Regions from separate parts of the Homo sapiens genome. Here all the other regions are linked to region 1. Evidence: fine-mapped expression QTL. A gene starts in region 1. Each other region holds a variant in brackets. All regions are shown on one strand. Distances are from middle to middle. Region 1 holds the start of TPCN2 (two pore segment channel 2). Region 2 has its middle 14 kb from the start of MRGPRF. Region 3 holds the start of MIR3164 (microRNA 3164).

The links.
Region 2: its variant is fine-mapped to the expression of TPCN2 in whole blood (TOPMed, PIP above 0.99).
Region 3: its variant is fine-mapped to the expression of TPCN2 in whole blood (INTERVAL, PIP 0.96).

Annotation. Positions count from the first base shown.
Region 1 is chr11:69,044,490-69,052,668 of GRCh38, forward strand. TPCN2 (two pore segment channel 2) reads left to right here and starts at 4,443. Exons shown (of 25, transcript NM_139075.4): 1 at 4,443-4,617. The coding sequence starts at 4,509. RefSeq lists enhancers at 1-523, 6,847-7,421 and silencers at 4,181-4,400, 4,521-4,690, 4,771-4,870.
Region 2 is chr11:69,023,444-69,031,622 of GRCh38, forward strand. No RefSeq gene overlaps it. Among named protein-coding and RNA genes, the nearest start is that of MRGPRF, 14 kb to the left of the region's middle. The variant A/G (reference allele first, on the strand shown) is at 4,663.
Region 3 is chr11:69,075,960-69,084,117 of GRCh38, forward strand. TPCN2 (two pore segment channel 2) reads left to right here. Exons shown (of 25, transcript NM_139075.4): 14 at 2,523-2,642; 15 at 2,775-2,834; 16 at 2,933-3,061; 17 at 3,875-3,924; 18 at 5,441-5,540; 19 at 7,986-8,057. MIR3164 (microRNA 3164) reads left to right here and starts at 7,217; the gene lies at 7,217-7,299. RefSeq lists an enhancer at 3,806-5,005. The variant G/T (reference allele first, on the strand shown) is at 4,623.

The DNA of each region.
Region 1 (8,179 bases):
TACTGGGAACCACATTCCACTAGGGCCTCTGGGGTTGTGTACCCAAACATCAAGGGAATTCTTTAGCGGCAATAAAGACAATTTATTGGGATGTGCCGTTTTTGCAGACAGCTGCGTGCATCTATTATTTCCTTTCTTCGAAATAAAAATATCTTATACTTTTTTTCATGTTTTAAAATGTATGCTCCTTGTCACAACAAAACAAAACAAAAAACAAAACAAAAACAAAACTCAAACCTGTGGCCACATCCTGAGATCTCTCTCGACCCCACTCTGTTCCCCAGAGCTGTGTCATCTTTTAAACATTTGCTGACTTAGGAGTTCAGTGATTTCATTGTTACTTTAATTTGCATCCCTTTGTAGCCTAATGAGGTGGAGCTTTATTTTAGGCATTCCTCACTGATATTTCCTCTTTCTTGGGAACTTCTGGTTCAAGTCTTTTCCCATATGTGGAATTTAAGGCTGAATGTATGGGATTTTAAAGGCTCTGCAGGAAGCAGAATTTTGGCACCCATGATCTTCACTCCTGGTGTCCTGCCTGTGGTTGTGCTAGATGAGATGGCAAAAAGGATTTTGTAGATGCGATTGAAGTCACGAATGAGCTGATCTTAAATTAGGGAGATCATCCTAGATTATCTGATGAGCCCAGTGTAATTGTTACCAGAAAGAGGTCCTGATCTAGATCCCAAGAGAGGGTTCTTGGATCTCCCACAAGAAAGAACTCAGGGCAAGTCCACAGTGCAATGCAAAAACAAGTTTATTAAGAAAGTAAAGTAGGCTGGGTGCGGTGGCTCGTTCCTGTAATCCCAGCACTTTGGGAGGCCTAGGCGGGTGGATCACCTGAGGTCAGGAGTTCGAGACCAGCCTGGCCAACATGGTCAAACCCCGTCTCTACTAAAAACACAAAAATTAACTGGGCGTGGTGGCGTGTGCATGTAATTCCAGCTACTCAGGAGGCTGAGGCAGGAGAATCCCTTGAACCTGGGAGGCGGAGGTTGCAGTGAGCTGAGGTCGTGCCATTGCACTCCAGCCTGGCGACAGAGCGAGACTCTGTCTCAAAAAAAAAAAAAAGAAAAAAAAAAGAAAAGAAAGTAAAGTGGTGACAGAACAGCTGCTCCATAGACAGAGTTAGGACGTTCCGGAAAGTAAGGAGGAACGTGTCCACCCTAGGTATAATACTCGTTTATATATAGGATGAAAAAAGATCAAAGATCATGAGGACACGTGCTCTGCCACTGGGGTTTGTGATAAAGAATTTTCCTAATTACTGTATTTTGCAAGAATTGATATTATTACCTTTAAAGCAAAATTAGGGATGCTTCTGTTCTGAAGATATCAGGATATCAGCACACTCCCAAGTCTAGGTCTGCTTAGTAAACATTATCAATCTGTTCCCTTAACTGTGAACGCCTCACTTTCTGGGAATGCAGCCTGATAAAGCCCCAGCCTCATTTTTCCTAGTCCTCACTCAAGATGGAGTCGCAGCAAGTCCCAGCCTCATTTTCCCTAGTCCTCACTCAAGATGGAGTCGCAGCAAGTCCCAGCCTCATTTTTCCTAGTCCTCACTCAAGATGGAGTCGCAGCAAGTCCCAGCCTCATTTTTCCTAGTCCTAACTCAAGATGGAGTCGCTCTGGTTCGAATGCCTCAGACATAATCATATGAGCCCTTGGCTCACTGCAACCTCTGTCTCCCAGGTTCAAGCGATTCTCCTGTCTCAGCCTCCTGAGTAGCTGGGATTACAGGCGCCTGCCACCATGCCTGGCTAATTTTTGTATTTTTAGTAGAGACGGCGTTTCACCATGTTGGTCAAGCTGGTCTCGAACTCCTGACCTCAGGTGATCCGCCTGCCTTGGTCTCCCAAAGTGCTGGGATTACAGGCATGAGCCACTGTACCTGGCCTGAAAGCAGAGTCTTGACGAATTATTTGTACACTCATGTTCACAGCAGCATTATTCACAATAGTCAAAAGGTGGAAGCAACCCAGTGCCCATCCATGGATGACTGGATAAGCAAAATGTCATGGATACATACAGTGGAGTATTATTCAGCTTTAAAAAGGAAGGAAATTTGGACACATGCTACATGGATGAACCTTGAGGATTTTAGGCTAAATGACATAAGCCAGTCACAAAAGAACAAATACTGCAGGATTCCACTTAAATGAGGAACCTAGAGTCGCCAAAATCTTAGGGATAGAAAGGAGAATGGTGGTTTCCAGGGGCTGAGGGAATGAGGAGTCAGTGCTTAATGGGTCCAGAATTTCAGTTTTGCAAGATAAAAAGAGTTCTGGAGTTGGAGGTGATAGTTGTATAGCATCATTAATATATTTAATATCAATGAGCTGTACACTTCAATATAGTTATGTGAACTAAAAATATCTGAGACAGGTCTCGATCTATTTAGTAAGTTTATTTTGCCAAGGTTAAGGAGTGCCTGGGAGGCAGGTCTATGCCTTCCTTCAAGGATGATTTGTAGGACTTCAATATTTAAAGGGGAAACTGGCCAGGTGCTGTGGCGGAGGTTGCTGAGTGACCTGAGATCGCACCACTGCACTCTAGCCTGGGCAACGAAGCAAGACTCTGTCTCAAAAAAAAAAAAAAAAAAAAAAAAGGGAAAGGGTGGATATTGGGAAAGAGGGAGAAATTTTAAAAATATGTGGAGAGATAAGAGACAAAGGTTGCATTCTTGTGAGTCTTTGATCAGACTTTCACTGAAATACACAATTTACAGGTTGCGGGGGTAGAGGAATAGTCACTTATGCCTTAGTCTGGCTCGGTGAATCTGCACTTTTATACCAGAGGAAGCAATCAGGTGAGCAGAGGGATGACTTAGAGTTCCATCCTTTGTTTGGAACCTGTGAAGATCAGTTGTCAATGTACATTGTTAGGGTAAAATTCAACAAAACTGTTTTAGGGTAAAGATCTTGGGTGCCCACGAAAAATTTCCTAGCGGGCAAATTGTGAGGGAGGTATGTAGCTTTTTAAATCTTCGTAGCTATTTTATTAAAGAAGAAAAGGCGAGGCAGTTTGCCCAACGCAGTTCCCAGCTTGACTTTTCCCTTTGGCTTAGTGATTTTGGAGTCCTGAGATTTATTTTCCTTTCACAGTTATGATGGTAAATTTTATATTTATTTTAAACCCTCCCCCCTCCCCAAAAGAGGGGGAAAAAGTAAAGAGGTATGGCAGAAGGGGAAGTCACAGAGATTGGAAGCGTCTTGCAGCACCTTTTTTTTTGAGATGGAGTCTCGCTCTGTTGCCAGGCTGGAGTGCAGTGGCGCAATCTCAGCTCACTGCAATTTCCGCCTCCCGGGTTCAAGCGATTCCCCTGCCTCAGCCTCCGAGTAGCTGGGACTATAGACACGTGCCACCACGTCTGGCTAACTTTTTGTATTTCAGTAGAGACGGGGCTTCACCATGTTGGCCAGGATGGTCTCGATCTCCTGACCTCGTGATCCACCTGCCTCGGTCTCCCAAAGGGCTGGGATTACAGGCGTCTTGCTGCATCTCGAAGCGTCTTCAGCGTGCTCTTGCTTGCTGGCTCTGATGATGGAGGTGTTCAAGCCATCGTGGAAGGAATGCAGTGGCCTCTAGGAGTGAGAATGACACCAGCCAACATCCAGCAAGAAGACGTGGACTTCAGTCCTAGGCCCATGGAGACAATTCTGTTAACATCCTGGATGAGCCTGGAAGTGGGCTTTCCCCAGAGTCTGCAGATAAGAGCCCACGGCAGCTGACATTTTGACTCTAGCCTCGTGAGGCCCTGAGACAGGAGGTTTCCTGCCCCGCAGGACTGAAAGATGATGAATGGGAGTTATTTTATATTTTCAGATTGTGGTAATTAGTCACTGTAGCAATAGAAAACGAATACAAGGTCTTTATGCATTAATGTTGAAAACACTTTTTATATACGTTGTAAATATTTTTTAAGTGTGTCATATGTTTTTAAACTTTTCCCTTAATGATATTGAATCCTCCTAATTTCACCATCAGAGGGTAAACTCCAGTTCCATTCTGGGGGGAGTCCTTTGCAGTCACCCCGTGTACTCAATACTCACATGCATCAGAATCACCCCGAATGCTTGTTAAAACACAGATTCCTGGGTCCTCCCCGCAGAGTTGCTGATTTAGTAGGTTTAAGGGCCCAAGAATTTGCATTTCTAAAATGTTTCCAGGTGATGCTGAAGCTTCTGGCCGGAAAGACATCCTTTGAGAACATATTTCCTCCCCAGCCCTCGGCCCTTAAGCCCCAGAACGCTGCCCCGCCCTGGGTGGAACGAAGCTGAGCTCCACCCTAGAGGGGCGGGGCCCTTTAGCTCCGCCCCACTCAGGAGAACCCCACCCCTCCCTCCCCGTTCTCATTGGCTGGGACTGCAGGGATCCCCTGCGCCACAGTGCCGTGCGCGCGTCAGCAAAAACGCCAGGGACGGGGTCTCCGCGCCTGCGCAGTGAAGCTGGGCGCCTTCGGGGCTTGAGCTTCTGAGGGTCGGGTCCAGCGCGTGGGCTGCTGGATGGCGGAACCCCAGGCGGAGTCGGAGCCCCTGCTGGGCGGGGCCCGCGGCGGTGGCGGCGACTGGCCGGCGGGGCTGACCACTTACCGCAGCATCCAAGTCGGCCCTGGTGAGCCGCCCGGACCTGGGGAGGGGACTGGCCCGGGAGACCAGGGTCGCGCGTGGGGGTCCCGCTGTCCCAGCACCCCGCTTTCTGCCGGGCGCGCCCCCACCAGGTTCGAGTCCGAGCGGGGCCCGGGCCGCGCCGGGTGCCAGGCGAGCCGGTGTTCTGAGGGCGAGTGGGCTGCGTCCTGCGGACCCGGACCGGGGTCAGGGCAGAGCTGGGGTCTCTTCCGTGTCGCGTCCTGATCCCGACCAGCTGGGCGAAGAGGCCCTCGCCCAGCCTTGGGCAGCCCCGAGGGAACCGGCCACCTGCGGCAGGCACCCTCCGTGTGCCCGGGCGGGCCCAGACCCCATACTTCCCGACTGTCGCCGTAATGAGGGTCGCCTAATTGACTCAGAGAAGGCAGCACTTTGATTTTTCCCGTTTCTTCTGGAAAAAGCAGAGGCTCACAGAGAGGCGTTACCCTACCCAAGGTCACACACCCAGTAAGTGGCCGAGGTGGGATTCGAACCAGTTGGGAGCTAGGAGTCCTTTCTTTGTAGGGTGCCTTTCCCCGTCCCACTTCCCGTGGGGCTGGGGCGGGCCCCCTAGACGGGGGCGGCTTCCTCTCCTTGCCCTCTGCCACCCCAGAGTCCCCTCTGCACTCCCTCCTGCCCTTCCCGTTTTTTGTCCTGGTCTGAAGATTGCTGAATCCGCCCCCCGAGGGTGGGGTGCGTCCGCCCCTCGCTGACACCAGGGGAATGAGATTCTGGATTAAGAGGTGGAAGGACCTTAGCTTCACTTCACAGATGAGGAAACTGAGGCCCAGAGAGGCCCTGAGACCTGCCCAAGGTCACAGCCCTCTGTTCTGGTGCGGCTGCTGCTCGAACCACTCTGAGAATTCACACCTGGCTCCTTCCCTCTCTGGCCTCTCTTTCCTTCTTTCCTCCTCTGTCTGGAAGGAACTGGGTTGGAATCCTGGTGCCCACCCACTGGTCTGTGGCATGTGCCCATCCATGGAGTAATGAGGGGCCAAGGAGGGGACCCTGACGAGAGATGAAAAACCAGAGGCCAAGGTGGCCACCCTGTCTGCTCACCTCAGAAGCTGCCTCCAGGAAGTTCTTCAGGTGCTTCCTGGGACCAGTCAGGAAGGAGATCTGCAGGGAGCAGCTCTGGCAGGCCCCTTGATGAGACGCCCAGCATATGGCACCGTTCAGGGAACACAGACTTTGTGTCTAGGGGTCTGGGCGCCTTTCTGGGGCTGCACTGGCTGTGTGACCTTGGCAGGTTGCTTAACCTTTCTGTTTCTTTTTTGAGATGGAGTATCACTCTGTCACCCAGGCTGGAGTGCAGTGGCGTGATCTCGGCTCACTGCAGCCTCTACCTCTGCTGGGTTGAAGCGATTCTCCCGCCTCAGCCTCCCAAGTAGCTGGGACTGCAGGCGCCCGCCACCACACTTGGCTAATTTTTGTATTTTTAGTAGAGATGGGGTTTCACTGTGTTGGCCAGGGTGGTCTCAAACTCCTGACCTCGGGTGATCTGCCTGCCTCGGCCTCCCAAAGTGGTGGGATTACAGGCGTGAGCCACTGTGCCTGGCCATGCTTCACCTTTCCGAATCTCAGTAAAAGGGAGATAATACTAAGGACTGCCTGGCGGGCATTGTGAGGATTCAGAGAGAATCCAGAGTTTGTCCTCAGCACAGGGCCCGGCGGGCTGGTGTGGGGGCCAGTGGCCGTCCTGGGTAAGCTCTGTGATCATTGCAGGTCCTCCCTGGCAGGTGAGACCCGCTCTGCTGGGCAGTGTGGCTGACAAGAGGAGGCTCTCGGGGAGCGCTCTTTGTCCCTATGCTGTGGCCTCAGCCAGGGCTTCTGAGAACGTGGACAGGACGCTCTGTGTTCTGAATCCCCTTGGCCAGGGTCCCCAGCAAGGACTGGCAGACTATGGAGCCATGGAGACTCCGAAAGGCTCATTCAGTCTCTGTGCTGAGGCCTGTGCCAGGCTTTGAAATGAAGGCCCTGTGCTCTGGTTTGCAAGTCCTGTGGTTGGTCTCTTGCCAACGGGTTGTGGTGAGGGCTGCTGCTGTGGGTGCCCCAAGGACCCCAGTGGACCCTGCTGTTGGGTCGTTTTGACTTGGCCCCACCTGATGGGGCCGGGGTCAAAGGTTGAGAACAGTTGTTTTCTCTTGTTGCTGGGTCAGAAAAATCACACTTTTACTGGTTATCAAACAAGTCAGAGGACAAGGGATTGCGATGCTGTAGAGGCTTTCAGAGTAACTGAATGCTTATGAAGGGCTCACTTAGCAAAGTACTCTGGCTATAGTAAGTCATTCAGTCTGTACTTAGCTCCTATTGGGTGGGGGTCCATGAGGACCTGGAGCACCTAGAGGTTAAGGGACTTGCCCAGGGTCACAGAGGATGATGGTCAGGACCCTACACAGGTTGTGCAGCCTGGAGCCTGGAGCAACAGGGGAGCGGGAGCTCAGACCTGGATGTTGCGGGGCAGAGGCTTGGATTAGGAAGCCGTGTCGAGGCCTGGTGTGCCGGATGCAGCATCTCAGCCCCTGCTGTCCTCTGTGCCTTGCAGAACCCTTCAGCCCCAGTGGGTGATGGTGTGTGGAAAGGTGATTGTCCCCCAGGGTGATGAGCTCAGGGCGGGGCGAGCTGTCCCAAGGGAGTCCCTGGACTCACAAATTGGGGGATGGTGCTCCTGGCAGAAGCAGCAGCCTGAGTAAAGGGTTGGAGGCTTTGGAGAGCATGGCCTTGGCAGAGCCCAGTTCGGAATGAGTGGCACTGAGGGTTGAAAGGCAGGAGAGAGGCGGGCCGGCAAATGTGGGAACCTGCAGTGCCAGACCAGGGTGGAGTGTGGGCCTGGAATAGTGGGGGCCCAGGGGAAGCTGCGATGTGCTTCTGAGTGTTTGGAACGAGATCCTTGGGCTGTTGCAGGGTGAAACGGAGGATGGCCAGACCCAGAATTTTACAAACCAGCAACCAAAAAGCCAGGCGAAAGGGAACCACGAGTGCTGGATGGTTCCAGGGGTGCCCACCACTGTTGGCCTGGGATGGCTGGCCTGGGTGGATGTGAGTACTTTCCGTGGTCCTGGGGCTGGAGTGAGGCCCGGAACTCGGCCGCTTGTCTCTTGTCTAAGAAGCTTGTATCACTAGATCTCTCCTGGTAGAGATTTTGTCTTCTCCCAGGGAATCTGGTAAGGTGGGGCCTCTCAGATCACCGGCCCCCCAGGCTCCCCTCAGGGCTGTTCATTTATTCATGGGATATATCAGCTTTGAGTCCTGTGTGCTTGACTTCTGGGCTCTGCAGATACAGCAGGGAACAAAACAGTGTGGCTTCTGTTCATAGCGATCCCAGGATGTGCTCAGGGGACATAAACAGTAGCCACTTTCAGAGCTTCCCTGGGGAGACATTCGGGTGTCCTCAGGGTGGGTCTCGTGGCTGTGCATGTGGGCACCAAAGCCACAGGGAGGGAAGGCTCTTGCTCCCGGCAGTGCAGCAGGGCCGGGCAGAGTGAGGGTGGGGTCCGGTCTCCTGCCTCTGTCTGGGGCCCCTCACACCTCTAATCCGTCCAGGGCCCAGC
Region 2 (8,179 bases), 21 kb before region 1:
CCGGACACCTCAAGATCCACTGGATCTGTTGGGTCTGTTGGGCTCAATAGCATGACAGCTTGAAAGCAGCCTGGATGTATTGCAGAGGCTTCTCTCATTCTGGGTCCTGAAACTGGCAGCAGCCTTGCAGGTTACCAGTGAGTCGGTCGGAAGAGCACACCTGAATGAGGTGTAAGCTGCACCAAAACCCAGAGCCCCACCAAAGGTCATGCCACTTTCTTAACAGGAGGGGGTGCCTGGTGCAGCAACTGGTCTTCCTCTTCAAGGGGCTATCTCAACACGCCCCCCACCATTGTACCCCTAGAAACTTCACTGAGATGTTAGGCGTTTTGTGGGGTTCATTTCCCACTGGCTGACATGCCTGTGTCTTGCCAAGATGGCTCGGGTATTTACTGTTTCTTCTCAGGTCCAACGCACACATGCTATCACTACAGTGGGTCGGTTCGTCAGCCTGTGGAATGGTGAGGTAATGGAAGTACTCCAGAACTAGCTGTCACAGAGGGCTGGAGAGTTGGTAGACCTGAGGTAAGGGGGTAAAGGTGTTTTCCTGTCACTGCCCAACGGAACACACTTCTCATTTGTTTCTATTTTTTTCTTTTTTTTTTTTTGAGACAGAGTCTTGCCCTATCGCCCAGGCTGGAGTGCAGTGGTACAACGATGGCTCATTGCAACCTCTGCCTCCCAGGTTCAAGCAATTCTTGTGCCTCAGCCTCCTGAGTAGCTGGGACTACAGGCATGCACCATCATGCCTGGCTAATTTTTGTATTTTTAGTGGAGACGGGGTTGTGGTATGTTGGCCAGGCTGGTCTTGAACTCCTGACCTCAAGTGATCCTCCGCCTAGGCCTCCCAAAGTGCTGGGATTAGAGGCATGAGCCACCGCGCCTGGCCTGTTTCTGTTAAGTAATGAGTATAGAGAAAAATAATTGGTATTGAGTGTTGGGAGCTGTGTTGATTTGCTCCATAAAAACATTACATCCAGAAAAGCACATGAAGTTGCAGTTACTGCTTGACTAAGTTCACAATATGACTTTTGGTTTTCCATGTTGGGAGAGAGAGGCAGTGCTGGTGGCATCCATGTGGCCCTTTCTACCATAGTAGCCCTCACTCTACCAGTCAAGGAGCCACCCCATGGCTTCTACACCACTGAGTGCCTCTTCCACTGTACTTTCCAGAATGAGAAAATAACCACAGGGTGGGTTTCAGGGCCTGCGGAGCCTCCCATGAGACGGATCAGAACAAACCCCATTCATTGCTTGACCTCCAAAAGCCCCTGCTTTGACTGTGGGACCGCAGTGGCTGTGTGCATCAGGCACAACGAGTACCGCTAAGACTCAGTTCCCTGTGACCGCCCTCCCCTCTGGGTATTTGCCTTTCCATATTCACTCTTCCCAGATAAATGGCACAGGTCCCTTTGGGGACAGCAAGGAAAATGTGTGTACATTGTAAATGTTTGGTGGCAGAGCAGCGTCCTTCCTCAGTGAGACCCAGCCTCACTTTATTCAAGGAGCTCTGGGTAAAATCTGGGAACTGGGTCAGGGCGCCGAGCCTCCACCACAGTGACTCGAGTCAGCTGTCCGTTCACAGAGCTCCTTAATCAGGTCAAGTAAGATCTTAGTAGGTTGCCAAGATGTTAGGCTGAATGATGTTAAATTGTAGTTTTTCTTGTTGAAAATGGTTAAACAGCCGGGCACGGTAGCTCACACCTGTAATCCCAGCACTTTGGGAGGCCAAGGCGGGTGGATCACTAGGTCAGGAGTTTGAGACCACCCTGGCCAATATGGTGAAACCCCATCTCTACTAAAAATACAAAAATTAGCTTGGTGTGGTGGCGCACACACGTGATCCCAGCTACTCGGGAGACTGAGGCAGGAGAATCGCTTGAACCCGGGAGGCAGAGGTTGCAGCAATGAGCCGAGATCGTGCCACTGCACTTCAGCCTGGGTGATAGAGCAAGATTCCATCTCAAAAAAAAAAAAACAACAAAAAACAAAAAAACAAAAAAACAAAAAAAAAAAGAAAAGAAAGAAAATGGTTGAACATTGGCAATTTTACATGGTAAAACCAACTGTTTCAGTCCTAGGTTCTTCATGGTGAGTTAACCACTGCCAGGGAACTCTGGGGTGGGGGTGGGGGGTCAAGCCATTCTGATTATTAATCCAGTTCTCTGTGATGTAACGACACCCTCCCTGTCTGCGTGGTGAACTGTCCCTTGGCCCCGCCACTTTGGGATTCCACCATCCTCACTGAATTCAGGAAGCCCATTTCAATGGCAGCATCTCCCACTGTCACTCCTAGCCTGCAGAGAGCAGCCACTACAAACTCTTCAAACATGCTGATGTTCCTGACCCAGTGTCTTTCTCAATGCTTGGGTGAGGGGCCCTCCTGAGGGCCTAGTTAGGGGATGAAAGAGTAGATTGCGGCTGGGCGCAGTGGCTCACGCCTGTAATCCCAGCACTTTGGGAGGCCGAGGCAGGTGGATCACCTGAGGTCAGGAGTTCAAGAGCAGCCTGACCAATATGGTGAAACCCTGTCTCTACTAAAAATTTAAAAAATTAGCCGGACGTGGTGGCAGGAGCCTGTAGTCCCAGCTACTTGGGAGGCTGAGACAGGAGAATTGCTTGAACCCAGGAGGTGGAGGTTGCAGTGGGTCGAGATTGCGCCACTGCACACCAGCCTGGGTGACAGGGCTAGACTCCATCTCAAAAAAAAAAAAAAAAAAAAACAACAGAGTAGACTGTACATGATACATTCACTCCAGTATTCCTCTCCTTAACTCTGGGTTTTTTTTTTTCTGTTTTGGTTTTGTTTGTTTGTTTGTTTTTCGAGACAGGGTCTCTCTCTGTCATCCAGGCTGGAGTGCAGTGGTGTGATCACAGCTCACTGCAGCCTCATCCTCCTGGGCTCAGGCCTCCTGAGTAGCTGGGACCACAGGTGCGCACCACCACACCTGGCTAATTTGTTCCATTTTTTTGTAGAGATGAGGCTTCACCTTGTTGCCCAGGCTGGTCTCAAACTCCTGTGCTCAAGTGATCCATCTGTCTTGGCCTCCCAAGTGCTGGGATTCTGGGTGTGAGCCACTGTGCTTGGCCCTACTCTTTGGACACCTTTCTCTACTGCAGTGGCTCTCAATCAGGGGAGATTTTGCCCCCCATGGGGACACTTAGCAATGTCCAGAGGCATCTTTGGTTGTTATGGCTGGGAGGGGTACGTTTCTAGCATTGAGTGGGCAAGGGATACTGCTAAGGTCCCCACAACCTCCCCCAACAGCAAAGAGCCATCTGGCCTCAAATATCAATAGTGCTGAAGTAGAAAAACTCTGCTCCACGGAATTCCAAAGAAGTCCTGGAATCCCATCTTCATTTAAAATGGGTCACCACTGGGCTGGGTGCAGTGGCTCATGCCTGTAATCCTAGCACTTTGGGAATGGAGGTGGGTGGATCACTTGAGCTCAGAAGTTTGAGAACAGCCTGGCCAACATAGTGAAACCTCATCTCTACTAAAAATACAAAAATTAGCCAGGCGTGGTGGCAGGCACCTGTAGTCCCAGCTACTTGGGAGGCTGAGGCAGAAGAATTGCTGGAACCCGGGAGATGGAGGTTGCAGTGAGCTGAGATTGTGCCACTGCACTCCAACCTGGGTGACAGAGCAAGACTCCATCTCAAAAAAAAAAACAAAAAACAAAACAAGGCCTGGCATGGTGGCTCATGCCTGTAATCCCAGCACTTGGGAGGCCGAGGCAGGTGGATCACTTGAGGTCAGGAGGTCGAGACCAGCCTGGCCAACTGGGTGAAGCCCTGCCTCTACTGAAAATACAAAAATTAGCTGGGCATGGTGGCGGGTGCCTGTAATTCTAGCTACTCAGGAGGCTGAGGCAGGAGAATCGCTTGAACCCAGGAGTAAGAGGTTGCAGTGAGCAGAGATCGTGCCATTGCACTCCAGCCTGGGCAACAAGAGTGAAACTCTGTCTCAAATAAATAAATAAATAAAAACATGGGTCACCACTGCTCCAGGTTTCAGTTGATGGAATGGGCCAACTCTGAGAGCCACTCCCAGGTGCTGAGTGGACACGTGGAGCTCAGAATCTCTGGTGAGTGCACCATATCAAAATAATTAAGCCTGACCCGGCATTACTTTCTTCCCCCACCCCGCCGGTCTGACACCCTTAGGGTTTGTTCCCCTACAGATTTCCTAGGTTTCTGCCAGTATGAACCGGAAATAGCTTGCAATTCTTTTGTTGTGTATAGTACATCTTCCTGGGTCAGATTTTGTGGCCACATTCCTGGAGCTCACCGGGATTTCGATCTAGAAGCTGGAGGTGGTAGGGGCTCTTGAGGAAGAGTCTACCCTAGGATTAGAATCTTCCCAAATGGAATCCGTTCCACCATTCAGGGATCCACTCTTTCCCCGTCAGTGCCCTGACTTTCACAGAAGAGAAACTTGCGGCCCTGAGTTCAAGTGTAGTAGTTGAACTTGATTCTATTTTGCCACCCAGGGGATCAGAGTTTGGATTTGTTTATTTTTTTGATCTCTCAACTCTGTGGCTACAAGAGATATGGACTTCTTTTCAAGCACCAGTGGAGGGTTTCTGGTACTTTAGGTCTTGAACTGGATATTTAAAACCCTGAGCTCCTATTTTTTTCCCCCAGCAAATTCTCCGGTGC[A/G]ATAGGAGGAGGCCACCAACTTCACAGGATGCAAACTCTGTATTTCACCATCGCGTTCTGTTGCAACAGCTACCGTTGCCTGTTTGCCTTCTGCAGGCACTTGACCCCATGTGATTGCTGATGAGGACTGCAGCAAGCTTCCCACACCTTCCCCAGCCCCACCCTCCAGCTCCTCCTGCATTTATGGAAGCACTGATTTCTATAGTAAGCCCCTTTTTCTCTGGAATGCATGGAGTGGCCCTGCTTTCCTCTCCAAACTCAGATGGATATGGTTTTTAATTTTTTAGTTTAAAAAAATTTCTTTTTGGCCAGGCACGGTGGCTCACGCCTGTAATCCCAGCACTTTGGGAGGCCGAGGCGGGCAGATCACAAGGTCAGGAGATCGAGACCATCCTGGCTAATACAGTGAAACCCCATCTCTACTAAAAATACAAAAAATTAGCCGGGCGCAGTGGCGGGCACCTGTAGTCCCAGCTACTCGGGAGGCTGAGGCAGGAGAATGGCGTGAACCTGGGAGGCGGAGATTGCAGCGAGCCCAGATAGCACCACTGCAGTCCGGCCTGGGTGAAAGAGCAAGACTCCATCTCAAGAAAAAAAAAAAAAAAATTCTTTTTGAGACAGGATCTCACTCTGTCACCCAGGCTGGAGTGCAGTGCAGTGGCATGATCACGGCTCTCTGCAGCCTCAACCTCTGGGCTCAAGCGATCCTCCCATCTCAGCCTCCCGAGTAGCTGGGACCACAGGCACGCACAACACCCGGCTAATTTGTTGTGTTTTTTGTAGAGATAGGTTTTTGCAGTGTTGGCCAGGTTGGGTCACAAACTCCTGGTTTCAAGTGATCTGCCTGCTTCACCCTTTCAAAGTGCTGGGATTACAGGGATGAGCTACTGTGCCTGGCCAAAAAAATATTTTTTTAGAGATAGGGCCTCACTCTGTTGCCCAGGCTGACTGGAGTGGCGTGATTGTAGCTCATTGCAGCCTCCAACTCCTGGGCTCAGATGATCCTCCCACCTCAGCCTCCCGAGTAGCTGGGACTACAGGCAGGCCTATGCTACCACAATTGGCTATTTTTATGATTTCTTTTTTTTTTTTTTTTCTGGTAGAGACAGGGTCTCGCTATGTTGCCCAGGTTGGTCTTGAGCTCCTGGCCTTAAGCAACCCTCCTCCCTCTGTTTCCTAAAGTGCTGGGATTACAGGTGTGAGCCACTGCACCCAGCCTACTATACGTCTTTTGAAAACCTCTCTAGGCTGGGTGAGGTGGCTCATGCCTGTAATCCCAGCACTTTGGGAGGCTGAGATGGGCAGATCACAAGGTCAAGAGATCGAGACCATCCTGGTCAACATGGTGAAAGCCAGCCTCTACTAAAAATACAAAAATTAGCCAGGCGTGGTGGCACATGCCTGTAATCCCAGCTACTCAGGAGGCTGAGGCAGGAGAATTGCTTGAACCTGGGAGGCAGAGATTGCAGTGAGCAGAGATCGTGCCGAGATCGCGCCATTGCACTCCAGCCTGGAGACAGAGCGAGACTCCATCTCAAAGAAAAAAAAAAAAGAAAACCCGTCTCATTGTTAAACTCTTACCAGGAACCTTATAGAGAAGGGGATTCAAGGACTTGCAGCCTTAGAGGGATGTGCTGGCGGGGCCACGTTACTCTTTCTTGGTTTAGTGTAGATTTTGTTGTTGAGAACCTTTGTGTTTTTATTCTTGTGGCAACCCTCCCCCAATACCTTCATATGATACCTTTAATCCCCTCTTTTTTGGCAGGGGGGATTGTCGATTGGTTTTCTTTTGTTGATTGGTGTTCTTTACTCAGTTTAAAAATTTTTTATTTTATTTTATTATTTCAGAAAAATTTTCTTGAATTATAATTATTATTTGTTCTGCTTCATTGCTTTGGTTTTCTTCTGGGATTCCTATTGTATGTATCTTGAATCTTATTTGCCTATTTTCTATAGCTATAATTTTCTCTAGACTTTTTTTTTTTTTGGCTTCAACATTTCTTTTTGGTTTAAAATTTTTTCTGCTTTCTTTCTTTCTTTCTTCTTTCTTCCCCCTTCCCTCCCTTTCTTCCTCCCTCCCTCCTTTCTTTTTTTCTCTCTCTCTTTCTTCCCCTCCCTCCCTCCCTCTCGTCCTTCCTTCCTTCCTTCCTTCTTTCCTTCCTTCCCTTCTTTCTAGATAAGAGTCTTGTTTTGCGCAGGTTGGACTTGAACTCCTGGGCTCAAGCGATCCTCCCTCCTCAGTCCCCGAGTAGTTGTGACCGCAGACATGAGCCTCAACAGCCTGCTTTTCCTAGTCTGTTTCTCTTAAGGCTTTATTTGTGGTACTCATTTGCCCTTCTACTCCTTTTAGTTTCAGTCTTCATTTCTTAATTCCTTTTCTCTTTTAAACTCCTTTCTGATTTCATCATCTCTTTACAACTTTTCCTTTTCACCGATTGCTTCATTTCTGAGTTTTTCTAGTTTTGATTTATGCTATTTTCCATAACTTCTATTAGTTTCTTAATATCTAAAATCACAGCTTGTTGTGCGATGTTAAAGTGACTGCTTCTGTCTGTTTTGAGGACATGTCCTTTGGGCACACCATCGTTGGCTGGGTAGGGCTGTCATTCTGCTCCTTTGTCTCTCTTTTTTATTTTTATTTTTGAGATGGAGTTTCGCTCTTTTTGCCCAAGCTGGAGTGCAATGGCGAGATCTTGGCTCACCGCAACCTCCACCTCCCGGGCTCAAGCAATTCTCCTGCCTCAGCCTCCTGAATAGCTGGGATTACAGGCATGTGCCACCACGCCTGGCTAATTTTTGTATTTTTAGTAAAGACAGGGTATCACCATGTTGGTCAGGCTGGTCTCAAGCTTCCGACCTCAGGTGATCTGCCTGCCTCAGCCTCCCAAAGTGCTGGGATTACAGGCATGAGCCACCGTGCCTGGCCTGTCTCTTTTTGTATAGCATCTCTGTATGGGATTGGACAACACTTCCTTCCTGTTGATCATTTCCCCCCCACAGTGAGATGCATCTTTCTGAATATCTCTGGGGGAAAGGTGGGCCAGGATAGCTCCCTTGAGAGCGCCCTCTGCTCTTATTAAGTTGGTGCAAAACTAAAAAACTGCAATTACTTTTGCACCAACCTAATAGTTCTGAGAAGAGATGGTAAACACAGCCCCTTGCTTTCTGCAACCTGCTGCCTCTGTTCTCTTCTCTCCCTTTTACTGGGACCTGTTTTCCTTTGTGCTTCTGCCCTGGTCAATTTGGATTCTACCCCCAGCAATTTCTTCTCGGGGCAGGGCTTTGTCTTGGAAGCGAGTTGCATTTTGTGAATTTCAAGAGTCCATGGCCCAGATGGCTCCGGCACCGTCTGCCTTACTGCTTTCTCCTTGCAGGCGCCTGCAAGTGGAAGGAAGGCTGTGAGTCTCCCTGCTTTGACTCTTGTTCTCTGACTGGACTATGGGCTTTCCAGGGAGTACCTGCTGTGATTTGGGGGTCTCTCCAGATCTCAGGACCATCAGAATCCCCGTCTGCATTG
Region 3 (8,158 bases), 31 kb after region 1:
ACCTTCTCCTTGTAACAATTTAGACGTAATAGATAATGCTGAAATCTCTCTTGGCCAAGGTGTCCGTCTGGGTTAAACAGAAAGTGTCATGTACGGCAGTGGCAACTACGATAAAAGAGTAACTGCAAGATGTAAGGAAACCATGTGGTGTCCTTGGGCTGAGGGGAGTGCATGAGGAAGGATGGACCTGGAAGGGGACCCTCCGAAGCTGGGGTTCAGACCTCTTGAGAGCAGGTGTGGTTTTGCCCACAGGAATGCAGAGACGTTCACTGGCTTCCCCGGGCTGCGGTTGGTTTGTGGTCACTGGGTAAGCAGGAGGCGACCCTCCTGGGTGCAGCAGGCCCAGGCTGTGAGCAGGCAGTGGCGTGGTCCTGCCGAGGGAATTCGGTGCCAGTGTGGGCAGGTGGCCTTTGGGCACTGGTTTCCACATTGAGGACTGTGGGAAGCTGGGAAATTTTCAGGAGGTCAGGCTGTGGCTGTAGGTCCCCTGGGGACTATGTGTCTCGGACAGAGCGTGTCCAGATGTGCTTAACACCACACTCCGATCCACCCCGTAGCATCCGGAAACCGCAGGGGAGGCCTGCCCTCCTGCTCTGTCCCTCCACCTGCCCTCCTGCTCTGTCCCTCCACCTGCCCTCCTGCCGTGTCCCTCCACCTGCCCTCCTGCGGTGTCCCTCCACCTGCCCTCCTGCCGTGTCCCTCCACCTGCCCTCCTGCCGTGTCCCTCCACCTGCCCTCCTGCCGTGTCCCTCCACCTGCCCTCCTGCTGTGTCCCTCCACCTGCCCTCCTGCTGTGTCCCTCCACCTGCCCTCCTGCCGTGTCCCTCCACCTGCCCTCCTGCCATGTCCCTCCACCTGCCCTCCTGCCCTCGTGCCATGTCCCTCCACTTGCCCTCCTGCCCTCATGCCATGTCCCTCCACTTGCCCTCCTGCCCTCCTGCCATGTCCCTCCACTTGCCCTCCTGCCATGCCCCTCCACCTGCCCTCCTGCTGTGTCCCTCCACCTGCCCTCCTGCCATGTCCCTCCACCTGCCCTCCTGCCACGTCCCTCCACCTGCCCTCCTGCCCTCCTGCCATGTCCCTCCACCTGCCCTCGTGCCATGTCCCTCCACTTGCCCTCCTGCCCTCCTGCCATGTCCCTCCACTTGCCCTCCTGCCCTCCTGCCATGTCCCTCCACCTGCCCTCCTGCCGTGTCCCTCCACCTGCCCTCCTGCCGTGTCCCTTCACCTGCCCTCCTGCCATGTCCCTCCACCTGCCCTCCTGCCATGTCCCTCCACCTGCCCTCCTGCCACGTCCCTCCACCTGCCCTCCTGCCCTCCTGCCATGTCCCTCCACTTGCCCTCCTGCCGTGTCCCTCCACCTGCCCTCCTGCTGTGTCCCTTCACCTGCCCTCCTGCCATGTCCCTCCACCTGCCCTCCTGCCCTCCTGCTGTGTCCCTCCAGCCCCTCCGCTAAGAAAGCCTCAACTCCCGTTCACTGTGGATGAGACGCTGAAAGGGACCCTGCCCGTTGTGGCAGAGTGCGTATCGAGGAGGATGTCGGGAGCCGAGAGGAAGTTCGCTGATCATTGGCACCACCAGTTTGGGTCTCACTGGAGAATAGCCACTCTATTCAACTGGATATTTTGGTGTTTTCCTTCCAGACTTTTCCCTGTGTAATTTCAGGCATTTGTAGTTACCTGGGGAAACAGTTGCTTTGTTCTTCTTTGACGTATACATGAAGCATTGCGATTTTCACTCTGCAGCCTGCCTGTTCACGCAGCCATGTCTTCTTACCCTCTCCATTTTCATATGGACTTTCTGGGGGGATGAGCTGTAGCCACGTGTCACATGTGGCTGTGGAGTACTTGACACGTGGCTGTTGCCACCGAAGAACTGAGTGTTGAATTTTGTTGCATTGAAATTTTCATGAAATAGCCGCCGGTGGTCAGTGGCTCCCGTGTGGGACAGCGGGTGCAGGTCTCCTTGCTGAGAAATGTTTAGGCCATTCCCCTTGTTGACCTCTTGCACACACAGACGTGTCTCAAGGAGGCTGCTGAGCGTGGGAAGTGCTGGGTCTCACAAGGGTCCTGACAGTGGCAGCGTCTGCCCGCCTGCCCCTCATTGCCTCCTGCTGCTGCTGGCCACAGTACAGGAGTTGGTTCTGTGCTGAGTTTCTGTAGCTATGAGTATATCACTTACCTGTGTTTTTTCACACAGCTTTTTTTTTTTTTATATATATCAGGGTGACACTTTGCGTATGTTTCAGGTGACTCTAATATCACAACATGGTTTACTTACAGCCTCAGTGGATGTTTCAGTTGCTTCTATTTCTCTTTGGGTGTTACAAAGACCACTGAGATGAACACCTTTGTGTATAAAGCGATTTCTGTGTCTGGGATTATTTCCTGTGGCTGGATAGATAGGACGGGAGATGGGGTAGGAAAAAATCAAATCCCAGAATAAGAGGGTGTGAGCATTTTTGGGCTGCAACAGCCACGGCTGCTGGCCTGTGCTTCTGAGCACGTGTGTTCCTTGCCCAGCACCCGCCGAGGCCCGAGTACCAGTCTCCGTTTCTGCAGAGCGCCCAGTTCCTCTTCGGCCACTACTACTTTGACTACCTGGGGAACCTCATCGCCCTGGCAAACCTGGTGTCCATTTGCGTGAGTGTGGATTTGCCCCAGAGCTGGCACGGAAGTGCCGGTTCCCGCCCACCTTGCAGGGGAGCCTGCCCCTCCTGCCTCGCCCAGCGCTGTGCTGGGCCAGCCGGCGAGCCCTCTGTTCTGGCGTTGCAGGTGTTCCTGGTGCTGGATGCAGATGTGCTGCCTGCTGAGCGTGATGACTTCATCCTGGGGGTAAGTTCTGAGCTGTCCACCTGTCAGGGCCAGGGTGAGGCTGGGCAGTGCTGGCAGCCCTGGGGCCCAATGCTGGGTGCCTCTTCTGCCCCTTTCAGATTCTCAACTGCGTCTTCATTGTGTACTACCTGTTGGAGATGCTGCTCAAGGTCTTTGCCCTGGGCCTGCGAGGGTACCTGTCCTACCCCAGCAACGTGTTTGACGGGCTCCTCACCGTTGTCCTGCTGGTAAAGTAGGCGCATCCGAGGCCGGCCTCTACTGGGCGGGTGGGTGAGCGCCACCTGGGCTCTGTGCTGGCCCATCTCAGGCCTCCCCTGAGGACTAGAGGCTGTAGGAAGGTGGGCTTCTGCTCTCAGTGGTGAGGGCTGGCTTCCCTGCTGGCCGAGTTGCTCAGTGGGCAGCCGGTGAGGTCTTTAGGAGGCTGGGTTTCTACTGCATCCGAGTGTCATGGGGGGCAGGCTGCCCCTCCCGACCCCCAGGGGAAGCCCTGAAGGACTTGTAGCCCTGGCCAGCGACTCCAGCCCGGGGAACAGCCTCTTAAACGTCACTGATAGACGGTGTGACCTCAGCATGGGTGGAGCGAGGGGCCAGGGGGCTCTCAGGCACCAGGGTGTTCTTGGGAAATGCTTACACTTCCTTTCCCCAGACCCAGTGGGAGTGAGGGCATGCCACACTTGGTGTGTGTGTCACAAGCAGCCACATGAGAGTGACGTTTGCTGTAGCCAGCAGGCCCCTCGGCACATAGGTGAAGAGAAATTTGAAAAGGGCCCTGCAGTCTGTCCTTGACTCAGTATCTTCTCTGCCACCTCTGCCACCCCAATCTGTGCAGTCCCCCGATTCCTGAGGCCAGGGTGTCTTTCCAGCTGAAAGAAGTCCTGACATCTGGAACCAACCCGTGGGGTCCAGGACCAAGCTCTGATTTCTCCCCAAAAGCCCCTTTTGGGGAGAATGTGTTAGAGATGAGCTTTATAATAATTCCTTTAAGGGCCGCCCAGATTAGTGTTGCTGTAGCGAAGCCTTCTTTTCTTTTGTAATTAAAGGTTTTGGAGATCTCAACTCTGGCTGTGTACCGATTGCCACACCCAGGCTGGTATGTGACTGGGCAGAACCGAGGGCGGCTACAGCAAACAGCACCACCACCCAGCGCCCCTGGGAGGGTCTCAGTGGTGTCCAGGGGGCTGGGTCTGCTCTGACTCTAGGGCAGACCCCGTGATGGTGGAATGGGTGGGCCGATCCCACAGCAGAGGCTGTGTCGGGGCAGGGCCCTGCCGTCGCTCTGGGGGTCCTCTCTCCAGAAGCTGGCACCCCGCAGGCTGTGGAGGGAAGCCGTTGTTCCCCCTTGGAGATGCCCTCCCGGGCGGCAGTGGGCTCCCCCTCCCAGCACACATGCTGGGGGCTGGCAGCAGAGATGCCCCTGGCTCAGGTCTCAGGGGACCTGTGACCACTGGGATTCGGCTGGGCCCCTCTGCTGGCGGGAAGGTCCTTGGGAGAGCCCCTGCCTCACAGTGTGACCTTGAGTCATCGCCTCCCACTCTGGACATCACTTTAGCCTCCTTAAAATAGTGGAGCTAGGGGCCCGGGGCTCACTGAACTCTGAGGCTGTGTGCTGATTCACCACTGCCCGGGGTTCTGGCCATGAAGAGACAACCTGGGCAGGGACCCTGGAGCCTCGTGGCACCACAGGGCTGTCAGCCAGGCTGCTCTGCCCTGAGAGCGTGGCTCTGGTGTGCCCGTGATGAGACAGGAAGGGTGGGGCACGGGGCCCAGCATGCCAGCCTCGGCCCTGTG[G/T]TTAGGCCGGGCTCCTTGGGTCTCTGTGTGCTGTGTCATCCACCCCACTGCCTAGGGAGCAGCTGGGAGTCGCTTGGTGGGGGTGGGGACGGTGGACAGCAAGAGCCTTGCTATTCCGTCAGCTCCCTAGGAAGCCCCCCAGAACTTACCTCAGGAAGGCAGGCAGTGCCACTGTGCTGTGCCGTGGGGCTGGCATTGCCTTGTCTTTCATGTGCACTGAGCATGCCCGCTGCACTTTGTTCTGAGTCATTACCTTGGGGGGCTGACACTGTGGGTGAGAATGGGTTTGAGTTTCAACAGAAATGAAAGCATGGAAAGACCATGAGGGATGCCAAGCGGGGCTTGGGTCAGGGATGGGGTCAGGGTCAGGGTCATGGGACAGGAGGTGGGCGATGGGGGCAGGAACCAGGGGATGGGGCTGGCGCAGGAGACCGGGGCAGGAGACATGGGCTCACGCAGTTCTGCTGGGGCCTGAGCTGGAGCAAGTCTCAGTGTCTGGAACCTCCATGCCCTCCCGTGTGGACAGAGGGTCTGTGTAGAAGGAGGGCTGCAGCCTTCCCGCAAGGGCTGGCTGGGAAGGTGTTGGGGGGATGGGGGTCGCTCCGGGGCTGCAGGTGGAAGCGGAGCAGTGAGTAGCCCAGGCCCCGCCCTCTCGCCACCCTGCAGAGGCTTTTCTGCTCGGTGTTGGCTGTGGGGTGCACTCCCGTCATGCCCTGTTGCCCTCCCTGCGCCTCCGTCCAGGAACCCGCGCGTTTCCTTGTCTCCTCCCTGTGGGGCTCCTGGGCTCCTCCCAACCCGCCTCCCGTGTCTCTCCCCAGGAGGCCGGAGATGGTGGGCCTGCTGTCGCTGTGGGACATGACCCGCATGCTGAACATGCTCATCGTGTTCCGCTTCCTGCGTATCATCCCCAGCATGAAGGTGTGTGCCGGCCCCACCCCCACTCGCCCCACCCTCCTGGGTCATGCTGCTGCGTTGCTCCAGGGTGGGTGAGCCTGGGGCAGGAAGGGCCCGAGGACTGTGCCCGTCACCCTGGGCTCCCTGGCTGCACCCTCAGCTCTCTGCCGTGCTCTTGTGATGCTGGGGAAGGGTCATTAGAAGCAGGAGAGCCCAGCCCTGCATTTCTGGGTTGGGAGAGGAAGGCGGGCAAGGGTGTGGCGGGTGCAATGCTTTGGCCAGTGGCAGGAGCTCCTTGGGGCTGGAGCCCTGGACACCAGTGCTCCCCCAGGTCTCTGAGGTTCCCAGAAAGGCCTTTGCCATGGCTCCCAGGGTGCTATTAATGAGGGGCAGTGGTATCCCTGGCCAGGGAGCTTGTTTCCAGGATCCTCTAATGCGGGCGCAGGTGGCTCATGACCATCTCTGAGGGCTGGTTTCTCTTAATGCACCGGTTAGGAGCAATGGGCACCTTAAAGGGGCAGGCAGGCAGAGGTCGGGGGTCTGGGCCTTGCTGCTCCTGGCATCATGTCCTAAGACCCATGTTCTGAGTGTCCAGGTCCCTCCTCTGTCCCCGTTCATCCTTCCTCTGAGCTGTGCACCTGTCCCACCTGACAGTATGTCCCACTTGAAGGCAGCTCAGGGGTCCTGAGCCTTCCTACGGGGCTGCTGTGCTGGGACCTTCATACGCACACACACGCGCACACGTGTTCACACATAATTACAGCCATACAAGCACAATCATACATATATACAATACAGCCAAGCACACGTGATCTCACACACAACCACACATGTGACCATGCACATGCATATACACACACAATCACAGGCACACATGATCATACACAGTCACACATATACAATCATGTTTGGATACAATACACATCATCATGCACATACACACGTACATTAATACGCACGCCCGCATCACCGTATGCACAGATAATCACATGCAAATATCCATGTGAACTCATGTCCGTGTAAGACGCATGATCGTGTGTGCACACATCGCATGCAGATATCCATGTGAACTCGTGCCCGGGTAAGACGCATGATCGTGTGTGCACACATCGCATGCAGATATCCATGTGAACTCGTGCCCGGGTAAGACGCATGATCGTGTGTGCACACATCGCGTGCAGATATCCATGTGAACTCGTGCCCGTGTAAGACGCATGATCGTGTGTGCACACATCGCGTGCAGATATCCATGTGAACTCGTGCCCGTGTAAGACGCATGATCGTGTGTGCACACATCGCGTGCAGATATCCATGTGAACTCGTGCCCGTGTAAGACGCATGATCGTGTGTGCACACATCACGTGCAGATATCCATGTGAACTCGTGCCCGGATAAGACGCATGATCGTGTGTGCACACATCGCGTGCAGATATCCACGTGAACTCGTGCCCGTGTAAGATGCATGATCGTGTGTGCACACATCGCATGCAGATATCCTTGTGAACTCGTGCCCGTGTAAGACGCATGATCGTGTGTGCACACATCGCATGCAGATATCCTTGTGAACTCGTGCCCGTGTAAGACACATGATCGTGTGTGCACACATCGCATGCAGATATCCATGTGAACTTGTGCCCGTGTAAGATGCATGATCGTGTGTGCACACATCCACAGTAAGGCCTCAGTGCTATCCACAGGTTCTTGGAAACTGTGACTTTAAGGGAAATGGCGCACAGCAGACCCTGCAATCATGCCGTTTTGCTTGAAGTCGCAGTTTCCCAGGACCTCTCACGTGAGTATATACATGCTCACGATGACACGCAACGTGTGCACACGTACATGCTGACTGGTCTCCACTGTGGCGTTCAGCTGTGTTGTCTAGTTTGGATTCCTCAGGTGGGTTGATGGGGCTGATGTGAAGGCCTTTCTCCCGGCTAGGCTGTGATGAGGAGGAGCGGCTCTTTGGAGCCGGGGCCTCCCTGCTGGTTCTCAGAGGCCCCTTCTCAGACTCAGTTCCTGCAGGTGCTCCTGCCACCTCTAGCTCTGCATTTCTTTGGCGTCTCCAGGCCACAGAGTAGCTGACCCACCTGCAGTGGGTTGGGAGGCAGAGAAGGGCCTCCCACAGGAATTTGAAGTCCGTGCTTGAATGAGGCTGGGGTGGAGGTGTTGGGATGCGGGAGTGGGTGAGTGAGTGCGTGCGGGTGGCGATGCAAGCGTGTGCGAATGCGTGTGGGTAGATGTAGGTGTTGGGGTGCGAGGGTGTGTATGGGTGGACGTGGGGGCCTGACAGGCTGTGTGGGTGTGTAGAGGCGTGTGGGGGTGGCTGTGGGTCCAGGTGTGTGTGTGTGGGTTGGTGGTCATTGGCCTGCCCCATCTTGCCTTTCTGTCAGGGTCAGCGTGGTGGGCCGGGATGGTGTCCCCTCAGTGGGGCCAGGAGGAGTAAGGGCTGTGCTCTCTTCCTGTCCTCAGCTGATGGCCGTGGTGGCCAGTACCGTCCTGGGCCTGGTGCAGAACATGCGTGCGTTTGGCGGGATCCTGGTGGTGAGTCCCAGGCTGCTGCTGGTGGCGGGTTATGCACTGGAGTGGGAGGCTGGGAGGCTGGCGGAAGGCAGTGCCGGGCCGGCTCACTGCTCTGTCGGTAG